2 separate regions of the Homo sapiens genome follow, and region 1 is linked to region 2. Evidence: fine-mapped expression QTL. A gene starts in region 2. The other region holds a variant in brackets. All regions are shown on one strand. Distances are between the middles of the regions. Region 1 overlaps AKAP7 (A-kinase anchoring protein 7). Region 2 holds the start of AKAP7 (A-kinase anchoring protein 7).

Region 1 (5,200 bases), 58 kb after region 2:
TAAGACATCGCTAATATTTGACTGTTTTTGACCCATAAAAGTGACAGTTTTGTATGATTCAGCCTAATATTTCAACATGAGGTTCTTTTAAAACAGTTGTGAATATGCCAAAATAGAGAGGGTCAAAGTTGGGTTATGACAGGGTAGTTGAGAAAAGAGAAGTTTTGGTAATTTATATGAACTCTAAGTTGATAAGTTAATTACAACGATAATTGTTAGGAATACACTCTCACTGTTTCATAACATGCTTATGCTGGACTTGTCTTTCTTTTTTTTTGGCTACCCAGCATCTAAATTTTTTATACCAATCTCTTGTGTTAGTTACATTCTTTCATAGACTTCCTTGCTGCTAGGGAAGGAAAATATGATCTTGGTCTGATGCAGACTTTGAATCAGAAGCTAGCAACTTGAAGAAGAAAAGGACCATGCAGAATTCATCCTTGGGATAGGTGTGTCATCAGTGACAGCTACTACCAGTCCAAGGCCAGTGGGAACAGTTTTGGCCCTTTGTGTGCTGTCTGTGGTTTGGCACCTAATGCTCACTGGGGTGCTGGTACTGGACCTGGGCTCCACCAGCACTTTGGACAGTGCCTGTCTCCTTGGCTTCATGGCCTTTCAGCCTGCCTGGTCCTCTGGTCCTCGTGGTGTTTTTTTTTTTTTTTTTGAGACTTGGTCAACTCTGTCACCCAGCTTAGCCTCCCAAGTAGCTGGGGCTACAGGTGCGCACCACCATGCCTGGCTAATTTTCATATCTTTTTGTAGAGACGGGGTCTATCCATGTTGCCCAGGCTGGTCTCAAACTCCTGAGCTCAAGCAATTTGCCCACCTCAGCCTCCCAAAGTGCTGGGATTGCAGATGTGAGCCACCATGCCCAGCCAGAAGCTTTTAAGCTTGGTGTAATCTCATTTATTTATTTTTGCTTTGGTTCCCTGTGCTTGTGAGATATAACTCAAGAAATCTTTGCCCAGACCAATGCCCTGGAGAGTTTCTCCACTGTTTTCTTGTAGTAGTTTCATAGTTTGAGGTCTAGATTTAAGTCTTTAATCCATTTTGATTTGATTTTTGTATGTGGTGAGAGATAGGTGTCTAGTTTCATTCTTCTGCATGTGGATACCCAGTTTTCCCAGCCCATTTATTGAAAAAGCTGTCTTTTCTGCATTGTATGCTCTTGGCACCTTTGTTGAAAATGAATTCACTGTAGATATATTGATTTGTTTCTGGGTTCTCTATTCTGCTCCATTGATCTATATGTCTGTTTTTATGCCAGTGCCATGCTGTTTTTGTTACTATAGCCCTGTAGTATAATTTGAAGTTAAGTAATATGATTCCTCCAGCTTTGTTCTCTCAGGATAATTTTGGCTGTTCCGGGTCTTTTGTGATTCCATGTGAATTTTAGGATTGTTTTTTCTATTTCTGTGAAGAATGTCGTTGGAATTTTGATAGGGATTGCATGGAATCTGTAGATTGCTTTGGGTAGTTTGGACATTTTAACAACATTGATTCTTCCAATCCATGAACATGGAATATCTTTACATTTTTTTTGGTGCTGTCTTCAATTTATCTAATCAGTGTTTTATAGAGTTCATTGTAGAAATTTTTTGCTTCTTTGGTTAAATCCTAGGTGTTTAATTTTGTTTGTGACTGTTGTAAGTAGGATTACTTTTTGGATTTCTTTTTCAGGTTGTTCACTATTGTCATATAGAAATGCTACTGACTTTTGTATGTTGATTTCGTATTCTGCAACTTTACTGAATTTTTTTCACCAGTTCTAATAGTTTTTGGTGGAGTCTTTGGGTTTTTAAAAAATGTAAGATCATATCATCTGCAAACAAGGATAATTTGACTTCTTCTTTTTCAGTTTGAATGCCCTTTATTTCTTCTGTTGTCTGATTGCTCTAGCTAGGACTTCTATTGTGTTGAATAACAGTGGTGAAAGTGGGTATCCTTGTTATGTTCCAGATGTTAAGAGGAAAGGCTTTCAGTTTTTCCTTATTCAGTATGATACGAGATGTGGATCTATTGTATATAGCTTTTATTATGTTGAAGTATGTTCCTTCTATACACAGTTCTTTGAGTTTTTTATGAAGGGATGTTGAATGTTATCAGATGCTTTTTCAGAATCAATTGAAATGATCATATGGTTTTTGTTCTTCATTCTGTTGATATGATGTATCACATTGATTTATTTGTATATATTGAACCATCCTTGCATCCCTGAAATAAATCTCATTTG[G/T]TCATGATAAATGATCTTTTTAGTGTATTGTTGAATTCAGTGATTTTTGCATCAATGTTTATCATAGATATTGGCCTGTAGTTTTCTTTCTTTGATGTGTCTTTGTCTGGTTTTGATATCAGGGTAATACTGGTCTTGTAGAATGAGTTTGGAAGTATTCCCTCCCCTCTATTTTTTGGAGTAGTTTCAATAGGATTGGTATTAGTTCTTTAAATGTTTGGTAGAATTCAGCAGTGAAGACATCAGGTCCCAAGCTTTTCATTGCTGGGAGATGTTTTATTATGACGTTTATCTCATTTGTTATTGGTCTGTTCAGGTTTTGGATTTCTTCATGGTTCAATCTTCATAGATTGTATGTGTCTAGGAATTTATTTGTGTCCCCTAGATTTTCCAATTTATTGTCATATAGTTACTCGTAGCAGCCACTAATGATCCTTTGAATTTCTGTGGCATCAGTTGTAATGTCTCATTTATCAGCTCTTATTTTATATATTTGGTTCTTCTATCTTTGTTCTTAGTCTGGCTAAAGGTTTGTCAATTTTGCTTATCTTTTCAAAAAAACAGCTTTTCATTTTGTTGATTTTTTTGTATTTTGTTTCAGTTTCATTTATTTCTGCTCTGATATTTATTATCTCTTCTACTAATTTTGGGTTGGGTTTGCTCTTGCTTTTCTAGTTCTTTAGAATGCATCATTAGGTTATCTATTTAAAAGTTTTGCTTTTTTTTGATGTAGGCACTTAAAACAATAAAATTCCCTCTTAGCATGGCTTTTGCTCTATCCCATGGATTTTGTTGGTATGTTGTAGCTCTATCATCATTTGTTTCAATAATTTTTTCAGTTTTCTTTTTAATTGGCCCATTGATTATTCAGGAGCATATTATTTAATTTCCATGTATTTGTATAGTTCCCCAAATTCCTCTTATTATTGACTTGTAGTTTTCTTCCACTGTGGGCAGAGAAGATGCTTGATATTAATTTTAGTTTTTTGAATGTTTTAAGACTTTTTTTGTGATCTAACATATGGTCTATTCTTGAGAAGGATTCATGTGAGGAAAAGAATGTGTATTCTGCAGCCATTGGATGAAACATTCTGTAAATATCTATTAGGTCCATTTGGTCTATAGTGCAGATTAAGTCTGAGGTTTCGTTTTTGAATTTCTGTCTGGAAGGTATGTCCAGTGCTGAAAGTGGGGTGTTGAAGTATCCAGGAAGTATGCAGCTATTATTGTATTGGAGTCTCTCCCTTTAGCTCTAAAAATATTTCCTTTGTATATCTGGGTACTCCAATGTTGGGTGTAAATATGTTTACAATTGTTATTTCTGTTGCTGAATTGATCCCTAAATCATTATACAATGACCTTCTTTGCCTCTTCTTACAGTTTTTGTCTTGAAATGTATTTTCTCTGATAGAATCATATGCACTCCTGCTCTGTTTTGGTTCCCATTGGCATGGGATTTCTTTTTTCTATCCTTTTTTTCCCAGTCTGTGTGCATCTTTATAGGTGAAGTGTGTTTCTTGCAGGCAACAGATTATTGAATCTTGTCTTTTTAAATCCATTGAGCCACTCTGTGTCTTTTTATTGGAGAGTTTAGTCTGTTTACATTCAATGTTATTATTGATAAGGACTTCTTCTTGCCATTTGTTATTTGTTTTCTGTTTGTTTTGTGGTCCTCTCCTCCTCCTTTCTTCTTGCCTTTTTTTTAGTGAGGGTGATTTTCTTTGGTGGTATAACTTAATTTCTCAGTTTTTATTTTTTGTGTATCAATTGTATATTTTTTGCTTTGAGGTTACCCTGAGGATTGCAAATATTATAACTCATTATTTTAAAGTGATGACAACTTAACCCTGATTGAATAAACAAACAAGCAAAAAGAAAACTAATAAAAACTTTACACCTTAACTTTGTCTTCTCACTTGTTAACTTTTTGTTGTTCTCTTTATGTCTTATAGAACTATGTCTTGAAGAGTTGTGGTAGTTATTATTTTGATTGGTTCATTGTTTAATATTTCTTCCTAAGATAGGACTAATCTATACACCACCGTTACAGTGTTACAATAGTACATATTTTTCTTTGTGCCTATTATTTCTAGTGAGTTTTGTACCTTCAGATGATTTCTTATTGCTCATTAATGTCCTTTTCTTTCAGATTTTCAGATTGAAAAACTCTCTTTAGCATTTCTTATAGAACAGGTCTGGTGTTGGTAAAATCCCTCAGCTTTTGTTTCTCTGGGCAAGTCTTTATTTCTCTTTCATGTTTGAAGGCTATTTTTATCAGATATACTATGCTAGGGTAAAAGATTTTTTTCCTTCAGCATCTTAAATATGTCATGATATTCTCTCCTGGCCTATAAAGTTTCCTCTGAAAAGTCTGCTGCCAGACATATTGGAGCTCCAGTGTATGTTATTTGCTTCTTTTTACTTGCTGCTTTTAGGATCCTTTCTTTATTCTTGACCTTTGGGCGTTTGATTATTAAATGCCTTTAGGTAGTCTTCTTTGAATTAAATCTGCATGGTGTTCTATAACCTTCTTGTACTTGAATATTGACGTCTTTCTCCAGGTTTGGGAAATTCTCTGATATTATCCCTTTGAATAAACTTTCTACCCCTACCGCTTTCTCTCCCTTTTTTTAAGGCCAATAACTCTGAGATTTGTCCCTTTGAGACTATCTTCTAGGTCTTGTAGGTGGGCTTCATTGTTTTATATTCTTTTTTCTTTTGTCTCCTCTGACTGCGTATTTTCAAATAGCCTGTCCTCAAGCTTACTAATTCTTTCTTCTGCCTGTTTGGCCCTGTTATTAAGAGATTCTAATGCATTCTTCAGCATGTCAGTTGCTTTTTTTTTTTTTTTTGAGACGGAGTCTCACTCTGTCACTCAGGCAGGAGTGCAATGGTGCAATCTCAGCTCACTGCAACCTCCGCCTCCCAGGTTTAAGCGATTTTCCTTCCTCTGCCTCCTGAATAGCT
Region 2 (5,200 bases):
TCCACCATTAATGATGCTGAGTTTAATCACGATAAAGGTGGTGACAACCAGGTTTATTTACATGGAGTAAAAATATGTTCTCTCCTGAGCAATTACCAAGTATTTTGTGGGGGGTAGTATTTTGGCAACTTATAAATATTTCGGTCCACATTAACCTTTCATGTAATGGTTTTAGAATATATTGATGATCTTTGCATCAATCAGTTATCAGTTGTGGTGGCAAAATGGTAATTTTCCAATTATTTTATGTCTCCTATATTTATTATTGAAAATTCTTCTGTGCAAAGCAGCTTTCCCATACTACTACTTCTAAAAAGTCATGGTAAATCTTTCTTTCCCTTTAATTTTTAGAGTAAGGAGACTAAGGAATTGCGTACTTGTCACCTTTAATGGTGGCCTACTAGTTTTTCTTCCTCATTTTTTGAGTATTATTATGGGTATATAGATTTTGTATTCAGTATGTTACAATAATTACAGGTGTTATCCTTTTATGATGTCAGATTATCTCCCATTTGCTCAAAGAAAGCTGTTTCTCGCTAGTCCTTGTGTTTTTGATAGTCCCCATTTGTCTTTGCTTTTTGGCACAAGAAGATGTCCAAGGTTCACCTTGTACTTCCCTTTCTCCCTGTCATTTCTAAAAGAAGCTCTGTGAAAAATTCCTTTTTCAGACTTGGGTAATTAAAATGTTCCTCCACATGGTAGGTGTTGATAAGACTCTGTATTCATAATACTGGTGGTGAAAAATATGTGGCATTTGGGCTGTTACCTCTGCTTAGGTAAGAGAATGAAACTTCCATATATCTCTTGGTACACACCACAGGGGAAGAAAAATCTTTCTCCTGCCCATTTAGTTCACTAGGTTGGACTGTGTAAATTAAATTGACAAAAGACAGATTAAGACGAGAAAAGGATTATTACACATGCACATAGATGCTTCACAGGAAAGAACTAAAAGCCCGAAGAGGCAGTTAGAACTGGGGGCTTCTATACCATTTTAACGATGATAAAGTGTGGAGAGGCTAGACAAAGGAAAAGGGGGCTTAGCCTTTTTGCAGTATGGGAAGGTTACTAGAAAATGTATGGGTTTGTTATGCAGGTAAGACTCATTCTCCTCTTTCTGGTATGGGTGAGTGGTAAAGCTTTGTTGTTTGTTTGTTTGTTTGAGACAGGATCTGGCTCTGTTGTCCACACTGGAGTGCAATGGCATCATCTCAGCTCACTGCAACCTCCACCTCCTGGGCTCCAGCGATCCTCCCACCTCAGCCTCTGGAGTAGCTGGGATTACAGGCATGGGTCACCACGTCTGGTTAATTTTTGTATTTTTGGTAGAGACAGGGTTTTGCTATGTTGCCCAGGCTGGTTTCAAACTCCTGGACTCAAGTGATCCACTCGCCTTGACCTCCCAAAGTGTTGGGGTTACAAGCGTGAGCCACTGGGCCCGGCCTGGTAAAGCTTTAAAAATAAAAATTTATGTCACCTTTACGAAGGGAAATTTATGTCCTGCTTTTAGGCAGAAAGGGGGAGGTCAAAGTTGTTCCTGAGTCTTTAGTTTCTGAACTGTTTTAAGCTCAAGAATAATCCTTATGCTGAAGTGGCATATTTGGGGTGGCATATTCTCATCCTCTTCACTATGAATGTGGACCACATTTTTGCAGCTTTTATTTCCGCAGTTACTTATGTTTCTTTCTCTGCTATTATATGATCAGCTCCATAAGTAAAAGACCTGTCTTACCTGCACATCCTCAGCACAGAGCTCAAGCATTAAATAAATATTAGGGGAACTGGTTGTACTTTCCTACCAGCCCATAAATGGGCATCAGAAACTCAACGTGTTAGAATTATTTGAAAATCAGAGTAACTAGTTTGCCGACTTCTAGTGTGCAGCCTTTACGCCAGCTGTTGTGGCTGTGTAGGGGTCTTCTTTTCTTCCATCCCTATTCTACGATGCATTCAACATAAGCGAAGTGTTATTATTCACGAAAGGCGCTAATTTGTGGACGGATGCACCTAATGTTCTTAACCCCTGGTTTCTTCGCACTAAAACCAATCCCAATAGCATTCCGTTTCAAGTGAAAGGTTTTTATTTTTTTAAACTAAGTAAATTTCTTTTTCTCCCAATTTACTCACTGCAGTACCTTATACTACAAGAACCAGCAACTGGTTTCCTCTTAATGTCTAAACATAACATCATTGTTAAAAATTAGAGACTTTGTCACAATTTGCAGTTTTTAAAAGTAAGGTAAATAAAGTATCTCATTATACAGAAGTACAAGGTCTCGTTCTTGTACATTTCGCTCTTCCCAAATATTCTGCAATCAGAACCCTGATTGCAAAACTAAGCACATGGATTCTCAAAAGACACCAGGCCAGAGAATTCTTTCATCCTAGTCCCAATCTCGCCCTTGAAAGCGTGGGAGGGGCAAGGCTGCGCCACGGGAAATAAATGAGGGCTGCCAAAGGCCGTCGGAGGCCGCGGGGCTCGGCAGGCAGGCGAAGACCCAGCGTCGCATTGCAGAGTCGAGACGACCTGGGCTGCCGTGACGCCGCAGTCGCCGGCCCTAGTTTCCCCCGCCCTGCCCGAGCGCGTCCGCGCCTCTCGCCCGAATCCGGGTACCACCGGCGACTCGGGTCGGCCCCTTCTGGCTTGTTCCGGCGTCCGGCCTGGCATGCGGGTGCTGCGGCTGCTGCGGCTGCCGCCGCCGCTGCTGCCGCTGCCGCGGGGGCTGCGGCTTGGGAAGCTCCGCGCTTCCGCAGGCCTGGCCTCCGCCGCCCGGGCCCCCGCAGCCTGTCGCTGGACCCCGCGCCGGCCCAGCGCACCGCCCTCAGGCCCCGAGCCCCGCCCTGGCCTCCGCCTCGGCCTCGCCTCCAGCCCCGGGACGCGGCCCGCCACCGCCGCTGCCGCCAGCCCAGACGCGCCGCCCGCATGCGCCGCGACCATGGAGCGCCCCGAAGCGGGTGAGACCGGGCTGTCCAGCGGGCCGGGGCGGGGGCGACAGGAGCCGCGGGGGCCTGGGCCTGCTCTGCGCTCGAACTTTGGGAGGGCCTGACCCGCGCCGGCCCTTCTCCGAGTCTCCCTCCTTCCCAAAAGGACTCAGGGTAGCACCGAGAAGCCCGGTGCAACCGGGGTGTACATCAGTGCTGCCTGTAGCGAAGCGTTTTAATGCACGCATTGTGGGTCCGACAGGAGGCGGGGGTATGAGCCCATCCCCGAGTTTCACTTTTCTTTCTCCCTTTCTCATCCTGTGACCCTTTGCACAAAGTTCATGCCAGTACACATTCCTTCCGACGGTGTTGATGTGGGTAAATGTAAACAAAACCTAGTAAAATTTCGATTTTATCTTATATCACAAATATTAAGCACCCGAACCACCATACTGTCTCATTTAGGATTTTCTGCCAGGTTTGGACATGACCGCTTTTAAAACTGGCGCCAAGTCTACACTAGCGCCCGGAATGAATTTCCAGTTTAGGTCAGCGTTTGTTGTGAACTGAACTTTGTGATAGAGCGAGTTAGGGGTGGACTTTCGGTAAAAGGGTCCGCAAACCAATTAGAGAAAAGGTGCTCCTCTGCAAGAGTTTCATAGGATAAACTCATAGAAGAGTATAAAAAGCATAAAAACGTTAAAGTGTACTATATAAATAGCAGTTAATCGTGTGAATATGTTGACAATTGTTAAGTGAATGATGACAGTGAGTTTTTGCATTTAGGAAATGCATGGGAATGGAAATTGTTAAGGAGAAAAGAGCCATACTCCAGTTCCTTGTTTAAGTGCCGTGGCTTTGCAATTCAGGATCCTGTTAGCATATCTGTATATTTTCCTTACTCATAAAGTTTAAGATGTTTGTGGAGGTTACTTCCTCCTTTCATCCATTTTCGGACACTATTAACTTGTTTTGTCCATTTCTCCCTAATAATTTGGATTTTACTTTTGTTCCCTTTTTATGAGGAGGAAAGGAAAGCCTGGAGGTCAAGTAACTTGTTGATTTCTACGCAGCTGTCAACATTTACTAACGTGTAAGATGCTAATACTATTTTTAGTAGCTAAGCCAGGACTAGAATGGATGCCCTTAGCCCTTTCCAGTTGTTCTTAGGAATAAACTTATTTATGTATGTACTTATGTATGTATGTATATATGTATATATGTATTTAGAGACAGGGTCTTCCTCTGTTGGCTCAGGTGGAAGTGCACTGGCGCGATCATGGCTCACTGCAGCCTAGATCGGCTGGGATCATGCCAACCTCCTGTTTCAGCCTCCCCAAGTAGCGGGGACTACAGGTCTGTGCCAACATGCCTGACTAATTTTTGTATTTTTTTTTTTGTAGAGACGGGGTCTTGCCATGTCACCAAGGCTTGAACTCCTGGGCTCAAGCAGTCCTTCTCTGAGTGCTGGGATTACACGTGTGAGCCAACTTGCTCAGCTGGGATAAATTTACTATTTACCTAGTAGAGTGATGAGAGACTTACTTCACAAAATTGAGTAGTCATTTATTATCCAGTTAGGAAACCTGCATTTTGTGTGACAGTGGGAGAACTCTCCATACCCTTTTCTCTCTCTTTTTTTTTTTTTTAGAGGCAAGAGTCTCGCTCTGTCGCCCAGGCTGGAGTGCAGTGGCACAATCTCGGCTCACTGCAACCTCCGCCTCCCAGCTTCAAGCGATTCCCCTGCCTCAGCCTCCCGAGTAGCTGGGACTATAGGTGTGTGCCACCACGCCCGGCTAATTTTTTGTATTTTTAGTAGAGATGGGGTTTCACCGTGTTAGTGAGGATGGTCTCTATCTCCTGACTTCGTGATCTACCTGCCTCGGCCTCCCAAAGTGCTGGGATTACAGGTGTGAGCCACCTCACCCGGCCCACCCTGTTGGCCTGTTTTTGATGAAGGCATTTGCTTCACCTGTATTTGAATATTTGCATATATTTAAAGGTATGGTTTTATAATATACTTAAAATGTATGTATTGTTTTTCTTAGGTAATATTCAATTTTGAAACGTTTGAATAGCAGAAATGAGAAACATGAATATATTCAATATAGTTGTCAGCATTTACAAGCAGTTTATACTGTTTAGCCTTTGGCCACATAATTGTAAATCATAGAGCATATGCAATTTTATATCTCCTTTCTAAAAACTTGGCATTTGTTGTTAGCTTTTTTCTGTCATTGCATTCTTCATAGTCATTGTTCGTAGTTGTCATTGTCGC

The links. PIP is the estimated chance that this variant, and not a neighbour inherited with it, causes the effect. A credible set is the group of variants that fine-mapping cannot tell apart.
Region 1: its variant is the best candidate, but not a certain one, in a credible set for the expression of AKAP7 in whole blood (TOPMed, PIP 0.51).

Annotation. Positions count from the first base shown.
Region 1 is chr6:131,191,199-131,196,398 of GRCh38, forward strand. All of the region lies in intron 5 of AKAP7 (A-kinase anchoring protein 7), which reads left to right. Among named protein-coding and RNA genes, the nearest start is that of AKAP7, 58 kb to the left of the region's middle. The variant G/T (reference allele first, on the strand shown) is at 2,234.
Region 2 is chr6:131,132,828-131,138,027 of GRCh38, forward strand. It overlaps AKAP7 (A-kinase anchoring protein 7), which reads left to right and starts at 2,640. Exons shown (of 8, transcript NM_016377.4): 1 at 2,640-2,955. The coding sequence starts at 2,937. RefSeq lists enhancers at 2,271-2,771, 3,208-3,267 and silencers at 2,598-2,687, 2,838-2,947.